Regions from separate parts of the Homo sapiens genome. Here all the other regions are linked to region 2. Evidence: fine-mapped expression QTL. A gene starts in region 2. Each other region holds a variant in brackets. All regions are shown on one strand. Distances are between the middles of the regions.

Region 1 (4,162 bases), 64 kb after region 2:
CCAGATTAAACCTACTGAATAAATGATACTCAGAACCACATCTCCTCTAATCATTGTACATGTAGGTCATAGCTACTTAAAAATTAAAAGGCACGTGAGAAGAGGATAGGCAAAGAAGACCCAGAATATTCCCCCACTTAAGTGGGGAAATAGCTAAGCCACTCCCCAAGGAAGTGTACTGAAGCAAGCCTGTACGCGGAAAATGTCCTCGGGTGAGGTAGAAGTTGTATACACAAGGCAAAAAGAAGTAGAGTGGAGTTTTTGTGCTGTAAGAGAAGGATAGGTTTCCTCTGGGGGAACAGCTCTAGCTGCTTACTCCCTTAGATTTTGATGTGGTATTCAATATGGCAGTCACTAGTCACTAGTCACTAGTCACATATGTGACAGTCACTAGTCACAGAAAGCTAAAGTTTAATTGAATTGAACAAAATTGGGCCGGGCACAGTAATCCCAGCACTTTGGGAGGCTGAGATGGGCAGATCACCTGAGGTCGGGAGTTCAAGACCAGCCTGACCAACATGGAGAAACCCCATCTCTACTAAAAATACAAAATTAGCCAGGTGTGGTAACGCATGCCTGTAATCCCAGCTACTTGGGAGGCTGAGGCAGGAGAATCGCTGAACCCAGGAGGTGGAGGTTGCAGTGAGCCGAGATCACGCCATTGCACTCCAGCCTGGGCAACAAGAGAGAAACTCCATCTCAAAAAATAATAATAATAATAAATAAATAATTAAACAAAATTAAAAATTCAGTTACAGGCTGGGCACAGTGGCTCACACCTGTAATCCTAGCACTTTGGGAGGCTGAGGTGGGAGGATCGCTTGAGCCCAGGAGTTTTGAGACCAGCCTGGGCAACATGGCAAAACTTCATCTCTATGAAAAATACAAAAATTAGTCGGGCTTGGTGCCATGCACCTGTAGTTCCAGCTACTAGGGGGCTGAGATGGGAAATCACTTGACCCTGAGAGGTGGAGGCTGCAGTGAGCAGAGATCATGCCACTGCACTCCAGCCTGGGAGACAGAGCAAGACCCTGTTTAAAAAAAAAAAAAAAATGTGTGCACAGCACTTTGGGAGGCTGAAGTGGGCAGATTGCTTGAGCCTAGGAGTTCAAGACCAGCCTGGGCAACATGGTGAAACCCTGTCTCTACAAAAAATAGAAAAAATTAGCTGGGCATGGTGGCATGTGCCTGTAGTTCTAGCTACTTGGGAGGCTGAGGTGGGAGAATCACCTGAGCTTGGGAGGTCAAAACTGCAGTGAGCCAAGATTGTGCCACTGCACTCCAGCCTGGGAGACAGAATGAGACCCTATCTAAAAAAAAAAAAAAAAAGATAAGAAAAAAAATCAGTTTATCAGTCATAGTAGCCACATTTCAGGGCTAGTGGCTACTGTATTGAAAATTTCCATCATCATAGAAAGTTCTATTTGGACAGCTGGATAAAGGATATTAAGGGTATCCGGAGGAGATGCCCATGTTCTGGCCCTTCCAGGATCAGATCTCTTTTTTTTTTTGGAGACAGTCTTGCTCTGTCGCCCAGGCTGGAGTGCAGTGGTGCAGTCTGGGCTCACTGCAACCTCCACCTCCTGGGTTCAAGTGATTCTCCTTCCTCAGCCTCCCGAGTAGCTGCAATTACAGGCGTAAGCCACCGCGCCTGGCCCTAGGATCAGATCTCTAAGAGGCCTTGGGTATAAAGTTATCTATCCTTTCGAAGCCATCCCTCTTCTCATATTGGGTACTGGTAGCCCAACTGTGCACACAACCAGGCTCATGTACTCCATGGTCTCTCCATTCCTTTGTCCTGCTCTCTGGCCTGCTCTTATC[A/C]TTGCTTCACCCCTCTAGGCCCTGGAAAACAAGCTACAGAAAAAACTTTTCCATCAACTTTGACCTAATTTCCTGGTCACAGATTTGAAGGAGAGGAGCCACTAAATTCTTGCACAGGTGAGAAAGGGGCGGAGAGTTCAGGTGAAAGTCACCCTGGCAATAGGGAGAAATAGAGACTGACACTTTGGTAATGAAAGAGAGACAAAGAGAGGGAGGAGAGTGCTATGGAAAATGAAAGATAAACGAAAAATGAGGATTGAAATGGAAAAGGATCTTTTAAATCTCACTTTCTGTTAAATTCACATTGATTTTAGTTTGCTTATTATTTATTTATTTTTGAGACAAAATCTGTCCCCCAGGCTGGAGTGCAAGTGGTGCAATCATAGCTCACTGTAACCTAGAACTTCTGGGCTTGAATGATCCTCTTGCCTCAGCCTTGTGAGTAGCTAGAGCTACAACACCCCACACTGATTTCATGTAGAATTTCCAGGAGCCTGTTATTTGGAATTAGTTTGTGGAAGTCCTCAGAAAAATCAATTCCCAAATAAGGACCAGGACCAGATCTGTGCAAATATTTAAATTGGCCATCCCAGGGTTTCTCCACCTGTCGGTTCTTTAGGAATGAAAATCACTGCTGGGCGCCATGGCTCACACCTGTAATCCCAGCACTTTAGGAGGCTGAGGCGGGTGAATCACGGGAAGTCAGGAGTTCGAGACCAGCCTGGCCAACATGGTGAAACCCCGTCTCTACTAAAAATACAAAAATTAGCTGAGTGTGGTGGCTCATGCCTGTAATCCCAACTACTCAAGAGTCTGAGGTAGCAGAATCGCTTGAACCTGGGAGGCGGACATTGTATTAAGCCAAGATTGGGCCACTGCACTCTAGCCTGGGAGACAGAGCAAGACTCTATCTCAAAAAAAAGAAAGAAAGAAAGAAAGAAAGAAAATCACACCAATTAAACATGGGATTGTGGTATTACTCTACTACTATTACCCTACAAGGAATAGGAACCATCAAATCATCTAAGGGATGAGGGTGAAGTTGAATAGTTAGCAAACATTTACTGAGTTATGTGCTTGGTTAGGAACTGTGAAAATAAAAAATGGTTAGCTGCCTCCAAAGAATTTAATACTCATAACTCTATAACCTCTTAAGTCCTGAAGTTATCCTTGTTAGTATATAAATCAAGTTTACATTGGGAAGAAACCCTATGATAAAACCATATTGTAAAAAGGGGATCTTCAGCTGAGTGTGGTGTCTCACGCCTGTATTCCCAACTCTTTGGGAGGCCAGGGCCAGCAGATCACTTGAGCCCAGAAGTTTGAGGCCAACCTGGACAACATGGCAAAACCCGAACTCTACAAATAATCAAAAAATTAGCTGAGCGTAGAAAAAACAAACACATACACACACACACACGCACACACAATTAACTGAACGTAGTTGTGTATGCCTGTAGCCCAGCTATGTGGGAGGCGGAGATGGGAAGATCACTTGAGCCCAGGAAATCAAGGCTGCAGTGAGCTAAGATCATACTACACTCCAGCCTGGGTGAGTGAGACTGTCTCAAAAAAAGGAACCGCCACTCTTTTCTTTCAAATGCCCTCATAAACATCATCTCCCTGTATTTCAAGAACCCATGAACTCCAAAACTGAAGGAATTTAGTAATGATTACCTATGGATTTGGAAAACTAGTTTAGACAACCGGAAAATCCCAGTATAGTTGTTCAGTGAATCTGAAACATGCCTCAAACGGTTTCCCTCTTCACCTTCTAGCCCCCACTCTGCCGACATTCCTTAGGGTCCATAGGGAGTGTTTTCTCCACAAGGTTTTCATTAGTGTGGATTGTTAAGTAGAGGAAAACTCCTTTAGACACACCTTCTTTCCAAAAACTTTTCCAAAGCCATCTCACAGACATTTTTTTTTCCATTAAAAAAACTTTATTTTCATTTTTTACAAAGAATATCCCCATCTGGGGTAAAAATATATCTGGTTAAGTACAAAATATAGTCTTTACCATACAAAAAGATACATAATACAAAAACATGAAACCAACCATCTTCAGCCCACACTTTCTGGCTGTAATAACTCTCAGAAAAGGGTGGAGCTCAGTGCTCTGACACAGGACAGTGAACAAAGTGCTATGGCTGAGAGTGACTGACCAAGTGCTGGCAGCTGCAGTGAGGGGCCAATATCCCTATCTCCTAACACAGGGCAGGAAGGGGGTTCAAAGGGCTTTTATGAAGACCTGCCCTCTAGTTTCTCATGGCAGTATTTGGAGGTTCTGATCACAGGGTTGGGCATCTTGATCAAGAGTTCCTCCTTGGGTTTGAAGTCA
Region 2 (4,151 bases):
ATATAGTCCCAGGTTGGGAAGGGGAAAACGGTTTGCAACATTCTCCTCCTTGTAGGAGGCGAGCTCTGTCTCACTAGCTATGCCCCTCCATCAATTCACCCTATACTCAGATCAGAAGCTGAGTGTCTGAATTACAGTATATTTTCTAAATTCCTAGCCCCTGCTGGTGAATTTGCCCTCCCCCGCTCCTTTGACAATTGTCCCCGTGTTCGTCTCCGGGCCCTGAGACTGGCCCTGCTTATCTTGCTGACCTTCATCCTCTGCTGGACACCTTATTACCTACTGGGTATGTGGTACTGGTTCTCCCCCACCATGCTAACTGAAGTCCCTCCCAGCCTGAGCCACATCCTTTTCCTCTTGGGCCTCCTCAATGCTCCTTTGGATCCTCTCCTCTATGGGGCCTTCACCCTTGGCTGCCGAAGAGGGCACCAAGAACTTAGTATAGACTCTTCTAAAGAAGGGTCTGGGAGAATGCTCCAAGAGGAGATTCATGCCTTTAGACAGCTGGAAGTACAAAAAACTGTGACATCAAGAAGGGCAGGAGAAACAAAAGGCATTTCTATAACATCTATCTGATCCTAACAGAGTATGTAGGAACAGAATAGTAAGTCTTTAGTGCCATAAGATCTTAACATCTCACTTCTACTCCTGCTCTCCTAGTTCCCCCCAAAAAAGAAATACTGACCAGTGTCTCTACTTTAAACCCTACCTGAAACTTGAGACTATGTCTAATATAGAAACTCACATAACTAGCCCAGGTAACACAGCAAGACCCCATCTCTACAAAAATATTAAAAATTTAGCTGGGCATGGTGGCATGTGCCTGTAATCCCAACTACTAGGGACAGTGAGGCAGAAGGATGGCTTGAGCCCAAGAGTTTGAAGCTGCAGTGAGCTATGATCAGCTGCAATCCACCCTGGGTAACACAGCAAGACTCTATCTCAAAAAAAAGAAAAAAAAGAAATACATAGAGTTCAGTCCCTAGAAGTATCTTCACAATGATCCATACAGCCTTGCTATGCTTTAGAACTTTCAATTTTAGGACAGGAAAGTAACATTAAATGTAGAAAACAAAAATGGAACATTTATTCGCAACTCAAATACTACGCATATACGGTAAGAGATTAAATATAAACACAGCAAGTTCCACCCCAGTCCTATTTGTCCAAGGCTGCATGGTCAAATGGAATCTTGAAGAGAACACCTGGACAACAGAGGACCTGTCAGCGACGTCTCCGGTCTGGACTTCTGCTGCGTCTTCGGCCACCTCTAGGGAAAAAGAAGCAGGGAGAGGAGTCCATTAGAGGGACATAATACTAAGTCCTCATTCTGTTTCGTTCGTATTCCCTTCACCCAGACAGTATTTGCCCTCTTCATTTTACCTCCTCTTGCCTTTTGGTGGACCCCGAACAAAACACCAGTCAACGCTGATGGGCTGTCCCATCAAATCCTGGCCATTGAGTCCCTCCATAGCAGCCTGGGCTTCCTTGTATGTTTCATATTCAACTAGAGTATACCCCTGGGGAAAGTGAAAAGACAGATATGAAAACCCTCCTATTTCCCCAAGTATCACTGAGTATCTTTTTCCTCAAATCTAAACTCAGAAAAATCTACACACTTTAAACAATGAATGTACATCATATATCTCTACTGTATATATACATCATCTCCGTTTCTGTCTCTTTGGCGTGTCTGACAAAACATAGATTTCCAATGTCATTTTATTTCAACTTTGCTCTTGGCCAACCACAGCAAACACAGAACTACGAATGCTACCTAAGGCTTATGAAAGAAAGGAGGCAATAAAGTGTCACTTAGGATACCTTCAGATATCCTGTTCGCCTGTCGAGGTTGAGATGAATGTTTTTAATTTCCCCATATTCTGCGAATTTGTCGTGTATGTCTTCTTCGGTGGCTTCCTCATGGACTCCAGTTACAAAGAGAATCCAGCCTTCAACAGCTGTTGGGGGACGGGGGGAAGTTGTATGAGTACATGAGAGACACTTTAAGCAGGCTCACAGGAATAGAGTGAGTGCGGACTCAGATTGTTTAAGCTATCTCTGAACCCATTCCTACTGCGTTTAACTATTTTATTGGTTTCTAACTACTACCACAGACACGGATACCTCACAGGTTCCATTATTACTCACAGCGTTGTGGTCCGGGTTCATCGCCATCCTGCTCCACGCTGTCATAATCCTCACGCATCCGCGCTCGGGACCCCTCTTCTATAAGGGACATACACGAGATCACCGAAAACTCCTCCTTTCTCCCATTGTTCCTATGAGGTGGGTGGGGACTCCAAAACCCGTAGCTCCTGCCCTACTAGGCCACTCTACCCCATTTTCCCCACACTCACCGGAGCCAAAGCCGCGACCCTTCCGTTTCTTCGCTTTTTCTTTCAGTTTGTGAATGCTCTCTGGAACCCCAGAAGATAAAAGAATAAGTAACTATGACAGTCATTTGTAACAATCGTCTCTTTCCCAATACACTACCAGCAAGCCGACCCACACCGCCTCCAGTCTTAGTGCCTTCCCGGTCACGCCCTCCCTTCTCCTGAAGGGGGCGGAATCTCTAATCCACCCAAGACCCGGTTCCTCGATTCCCATCCTTACGACCGAGGAAAAAAGAGTAAATTTTCCTATTATAGCCTTCTCTCGCACCTTCCCCGCTTCCCACCAGCCGTCTCCACTGTCCTCACCGTCCCCATCCTCATCCATGGCGAAATCTTCGCCCCCAGCCTCGTGAAGATCTAGCACGTCCGCCATCTCGCCTTCGATCGAGATCTCGTCTGTGCCGCTCAGACACTAGGTACCTCGGGAAACTGTCGCAGAGGGGAAAGGTCGCCAGTCAAGCTGACCAATCAAAGGCTAACTCTAAATCCCTCCCTCTGCACGGTAAAAACACGCAAATTGGGGCGGGCCTAGTGCGGAAAGATACCGGAAGTGTTTCTGTGGCCATCTTGAACAGATCGCAAGCTAAATCATCCATCTTAGGAGGTACAGACTACAGGGGGCCGTGGCTTCCTCTTAACCGCGGCAGCTGCTGATAAATACTGTACTATTAACAGTGAGGCCCGGCGTAATTTCCTTATTAGAGGGCTTCTTTACGTCTCTTCATCCCAAACTGGGAAATGGTAATTGAAGAAACCCTTTTCTTTCAAAAATCCCAGGCCTGTACCCTGTCTTTAGGCAGCGTGGTGTATGATAGGAGCGTTTTTAAAAAATAGTTTGATCAGCAGTGAGGGCATAAAGAGCTGCTTCTGGAACCTGCAGCACCAAATTTCTCTTCAGGAAACTAACAGACTTGGTTGCAATACGGTTGGTGAGACAGATATCAATTTTTTTTTTAAATATAAAACTCCCTGCCTGTAATCCCAGCTACTAGGGAGGCTGAGGCAGGAGAATCGCTTGAACCCGAGAAACGGAAGCTGATTAGCTGGGCGTGGTGGAGTGCACCTGTAATCCCAGCTACCTAGGAGGCTGAGGCAGGAGAATCAGTTGAACCCGGGAGACGGAGGTTGCAGCGAGCCGAGATCTTGCCACTGCACTCCAGTCTGGGGGACAAGAGCGAGACTCTGTCTCAAAAAAAAAAAAAAAAAGTGAATAAGAGTAAAACGAAAAATAAAATTTAAAAAGCGATTAGGAGACACTAATTCATTCTCCACAGTAGGTACTGTGATCATTTTAAAAATCAGTTGGTTACATACCTACTAAAAATCCTTGTTGTTGTTGTTTTGAGACGTAGTCTCGCTCTATCACCCAGGCTAAGAGTGCAGTGGTGCAGTCTCGGCTCACTGCATCCTCTGCCTCCCGGGTTCAAGCAATTCTCCTGCCTCAAGCCTCCTGAGTACCTGGGACTACAGGCGCCCTCCAAGCCTCCTGAGTACCTGGGACTACAGGCGCCCCCCCCCACACACACACACACACCCGGCTAATTTTTGTATTTTTAGTAGAGACGGGATTTCACCATGTTGGCCAGGCTGGTCTTGAACTCCTGACCTCAAGTGATCCACCAGCCTCCACCTCCCAAAGTGCTGGGATTACAGGCGTGAGCCACTGCGCCCGGCCTAAAAACCCTTTTTGTTAGAGGGGTTTGGTTATACTACCCAGGCTGGCCTGAAACTCGCCTCCCAAGCATCTGGGACGAC
Region 3 (4,162 bases), 46 kb before region 2:
CAGCGTGGCCCAGTGCTCCGGCTCACTCACCATCCTCATTCTTGCTGTTGATGTCAGCCCCATTTGCAAGCAGGATAGTCAGACATTCTGTCAGGCCTTTGGAGGCTGCCAGATGAAACCTGCCAGAATCAAGGCCGAGAGGCCAAAGGATAAAGGGACCAGGGATGAGGAATGGGAGAATCTTGATAAGCCCTTCTTGCTATGCTCCCTACCCCAAAGCCAATCCTAAAAGCAGGAAAAGAAGCTCCCCTAGCTTGAATTTCTGAGAAAGAGAAGTCTATATGGCCTCCAATCACAAAGGATGCTAAAAGCAAGGAAGAAATAAGAGCTACAGGTCTCAAGGAATCTCAGACTATTGCAGGGGTGTCTAGGGAACACATAATTACCTGCCTCTCTGAGCACAGAACCTTAGCGGAAGTGGAAGTGTCACAGAAAGAGTCAGCCAGAGCAGAGTGAAGGCTGGACATTCGAAGGCTTTGGGTAGAGACAAGGGATAACATTTCCTTTGACTTAATCACTACTCCCTCTAGCCATGTGACTCCCATGCTACCACTTCATTTCAAATTTCCCATGCATACACACCCTCCTACTTGTGCAATGAAGAAACACTCTACTTAGTGTATATATTCATTTTCTGTTTGTTTAATGGGCTTTATGTACTTTACAAGTCAGTGGTGTCAATCTGGGTTGTGCAATGGATGGAGCTCAGGAACAATATTTTCTTTCCTCACTTTGTGTAGAACTTATATGTAGCAAAAAACTATTGATATACTTGCTAATTAAGACAATGAAAAGAGCTCTGAAGTTGTAGGCATTCCCTGGTCCTATGTTATATTGGATTTGGGGGCTTCAAAAGGGAGCCACATGTAAGGGGCAGGGGCAGGAGGACTGACTTACGGGGACTGGCCATTCGAGTCAAGCTTGGTGGGTCGGGCAGATTTCCTGGAGGCCAGGGCAGCCACGCGTCCCACATCCCCCCTGTGCACTGCCTCCAGCAGCTTCTGATCATGGCGGTTCCATCTCTCCACCTGGTCCAGAGCCACAGGTTGTGTGAATATAGGGCATGAGGGTAGTGTGGAGAAAGAAAAGAGGCAAATGGTTAGGATGCCAAATGAGAGAAAAGGAACATCCCTTTTTCTCTTCCACAAGTCACACATCCTAGATCATTTAGTCCTTCTTAGGTGGGCCTAGCTAAATCTTAACCAGCTAATATGCCACCAAGAACTATTGCTGGTTATTTCCAGCCCTGAGCCAGAAGGACCCTGGACCACTGAATTAAAAATCATTTGAGTGCTGAATGCACAGTATTTCAAATGTCCTTTTGTCATCATGATTAGAGTTGTTGTTCAGTGCCCAACCTCAGAGCAATCCTTTCCCTTTTGCTCTCTAGGTCTTGCTGGAGCAAATGGAACCAACGTGACCACTTTTGAGGACTCATGTTGCCTCTCACCACCGCCTCCACCCCTGAAACCCTGCTGCTCTGCTTTTTGTTGTCAGTTGTTTGAGAAGTACATTAAGGCACCGAGCTTCAGGTTACAGCTAGGAGTTCCAATACCTAACCATTCCACCTCTTTTCATTGGCTTTGGGCCCCACAGTTAAAAGAGGAAACTAGAGTTTCTGTTTTCCCATATCATATCTAGGCCCTTTGGCGACCGTCTCTCTCCTTTCCATGGCAACAACAACCAAAAGGCAAAGAGGTTTCTAGTTATGTTTGAGGAAGCAGCAAGAGGTAGCTCCCCTTCTCCTCCCTCCCAGTTTCCCTGGCAGGGAGCAGCTGTCTAGACAACAGCCACACCTGGGCATGCATTGTTCTATCATTCCAGCTTGGGTTTTGTGGGTGGTAGGGTAATTATAATAATTGAAGTGTTATAGGGCATAAAAGAGACAGCTATGTAAAAACACCCAGGGCTGAAAGTACAGAAAAGCCTGGTTTTGTCCAGAGAAGGGAATGAAAAGGAAGAGACAGATGCAAAGATCTGTGGTCTGATGTAAAGGCTGCCAGACAAATATTTCGCTGGCTGGCCTGAGTTTGGGACCTAGTTCAGCTACATTCTCGGCTATGTGACCTAAAGTAAGCCATTAAACACCTTTAACCTGTTTCCTCTTCTATAAAATACGGCTAATAACAACTACCTCATCATGCTGTGACTATTAAACAAGCTAATATATACAAAATCTCTTTATAAACTGTAAAGAGCCATACAAATATATGGCATCCTTGTAACAAAACAGGAAGTAGTGGGGTGTTGGTGGTGGCACATAGC[A/G]TTTTATAAGGTATAATCTCAACAAGAGGCTATAGAAAGGGGTGAAGAAAAATAGGGTCTGTGGAAGCCCAGTAACTCATTTTCAAACACTGTTTACGTAGCCAGGGCAAATTATTAATCAACCACAGGAAAGCTCTAAATATCCAAACCATAAAATTATCTAAGGTAGATGGATTCTGAGGTAATACTCCTGTACAGAAGTTGTAACTTCTCACAGTCCTTTCACATGCTATTTCAATTAGTCTCTCAACATCCCTGGAAAGTAGCTAGGGCTATTATTCCATCTCTTTGACAGAAGAAACAGAAGTATACCAAGATTAGATAACCATTCAAGATCACGAAAAAGAGTGGCAAAATTGGAATTAGAATCCAGGCCATGGCTGGGTGCGGTGGTTCACGCCTGCAATCCCAGCACTTTGGGAGGCCAAGACGGGTGGATCACCTGAGGTCAGGAGTTCAAGACCAGCTTGGCCAACATGGTGAAACCCCGTCTCTACTAAAAATACAAAAAATTAGCTGGGGGTGGTGGCCGGTGCCTGTAATCCCAGCTACAGGAGACTGAGGCAGGAGAATTGCTTGAACCTGGGAAGTGGAGGTTGCAGTGAGCTGAGATTGCACCATTGCACTCCAGTCTGGGTGACAAGAGCAAGACTCCATCTCAAACAAACAAACAAACAAAAAAAGAACCCAGTCCACCTGATGCCAAATCCTAGCTCTCCCCACCAGACCACACTACTACAAGCTATAGAAACAGGTTTACTTATTTCCAGATAAACAGTCTCAAGTTGCCTCCAGGGCAAAGCCACCCACCCTCAGACTCTACTGTCTCATGGAGTCTCCAAACAGGTTAACTCTCAAAGGACAAAATAAGCAAAATGACTCCTTCACATACTAACAGACTCTGACATGTAAGAACGCATTTTCTAATGGCCTTTGGAGACCAGGTCACCCCCAGGAAAGCAGAGAGCTAGAACTATGCCCCACGACAGGGTGCTGCCATCAGCTGACGTCAACCTGCAGTTCTCGAAATGTTTCAAGTCTTGACTCTAACACTGTCTGCCTCTGTGAATTTAGGCATGTAACAACATCTCTGAACCTCAGTTTCCTAATACTATAACAACCTATAAGGCATCTAGCTCGGTGTCTGTCACATAGTAGATGCACAATCCATCCTTCCTGAGCACATTTTAGATGTTCCTGGGCTCAGAATTCTCCAGCCAGGAGAGTGGAAGGGATCTTGCTGATACTAGCCAGCGAATAACAGCCAAGCTGTACAGATGGTAAAGATGCTTCTTAGCAATATAGATACTTTTCTTTCCCCTTCTTTTTTTTTTTTTTTTTTTTTTTGAGACAGAGTCTTGCTCTGTCGCCCAGGCTGGAGTGCAGTGGCGTGGTCTCGGCTCACTGCAACCTCCACCTCCCAGGTTCACGCCATTCTCCTGCCTCAGCCTCCCGAGTAGCTGGGACTACAGGCGCCCGCCACCACACCCGGATAATTTTTTGTATTTTTAGTAGAGACAGGGTTTCACCATGTTAGCCAGGATGGTCTCAATCTCCTGACCTCGTGATCTGCCCTCCTCGGCCTCCCAAAGTGCTGGGATTACAAGCGTGAGCCACCGCGCCTGGCCCTTTCCACTTCTTTTTATTTCTTTTTTCTTTTTCTTTCTTTCCTTTTTTTTTTTTTTTTTTGAGACAGAGTCTTGCTTTGTTGCCCAGGCTGAAGTGCAGTGGCATGATCATGGCTCACTGCAGCCTTGACCTCTGGGCTCAGGTGATCCTCCCACCTCAGTCTTCTGAGTAGCTGGGACTACAGGCATGCTCTACCACACCCAGGTAATTTTTTTTTTTAGAGATGAGGTATCACTGCATTGCCCAGGCTGGTCTCAAAAACTCCTGG

Direction of the effects. Alleles are on the strand shown, and positions count from the first base shown. SD is a standard deviation of normalised expression in the study named. Not every link is listed here.
As copies of A replace G in region 3, the expression in lymphoblastoid cells of the gene that starts at base 2,174 in region 2 goes down (small effect, 0.35 SD a copy in GEUVADIS).

Evidence for each region. PIP is the estimated chance that this variant, and not a neighbour inherited with it, causes the effect. A credible set is the group of variants that fine-mapping cannot tell apart.
Region 1: its variant is the best candidate, but not a certain one, in a credible set for the expression of LIX1L-AS1 in T cells (TOPMed, PIP 0.61).
Region 3: its variant is the best candidate, but not a certain one, in a credible set for the expression of LIX1L-AS1 in lymphoblastoid cells (GEUVADIS, PIP 0.59).

The regions. Positions count from the first base shown.
Region 1 is chr1:145,988,694-145,992,855 of GRCh38, forward strand. TXNIP (thioredoxin interacting protein) reads right to left here. Exons shown (of 8, transcript NM_006472.6): 8 at 3,742-4,162. Among named protein-coding and RNA genes, the nearest start is that of TXNIP, 5.8 kb to the right of the region's middle. RefSeq lists an enhancer at 4,015-4,094. The variant A/C (reference allele first, on the strand shown) is at 1,822.
Region 2 is chr1:145,924,658-145,928,808 of GRCh38, forward strand. LIX1L-AS1 (LIX1L antisense RNA 1) reads left to right here and starts at 2,174. Exons shown (of 3, transcript NR_147182.1): 1 at 2,174-2,289; 2 at 2,407-2,812. It overlaps RBM8A (RNA binding motif protein 8A), which reads right to left and starts at 2,827. Exons shown (of 6, transcript NM_005105.5): 1 at 2,703-2,827; 2 at 2,361-2,420; 3 at 2,152-2,229; 4 at 1,825-1,961; 5 at 1,384-1,520; 6 at 1-1,270. The coding sequence starts at 2,769. The coding sequence ends at 1,225. It also overlaps the pseudogene GNRHR2. RefSeq lists enhancers at 1,763-2,962, 1,902-2,841, 2,644-2,693, 2,934-3,083.
Region 3 is chr1:145,878,361-145,882,522 of GRCh38, forward strand. It overlaps ANKRD35 (ankyrin repeat domain 35), which reads right to left. Exons shown (of 14, transcript NM_144698.5): 2 at 898-1,028; 3 at 31-119. Among named protein-coding and RNA genes, the nearest start is that of ANKRD35, 5.4 kb to the right of the region's middle. RefSeq lists an enhancer at 1-471. The variant A/G (reference allele first, on the strand shown) is at 2,266.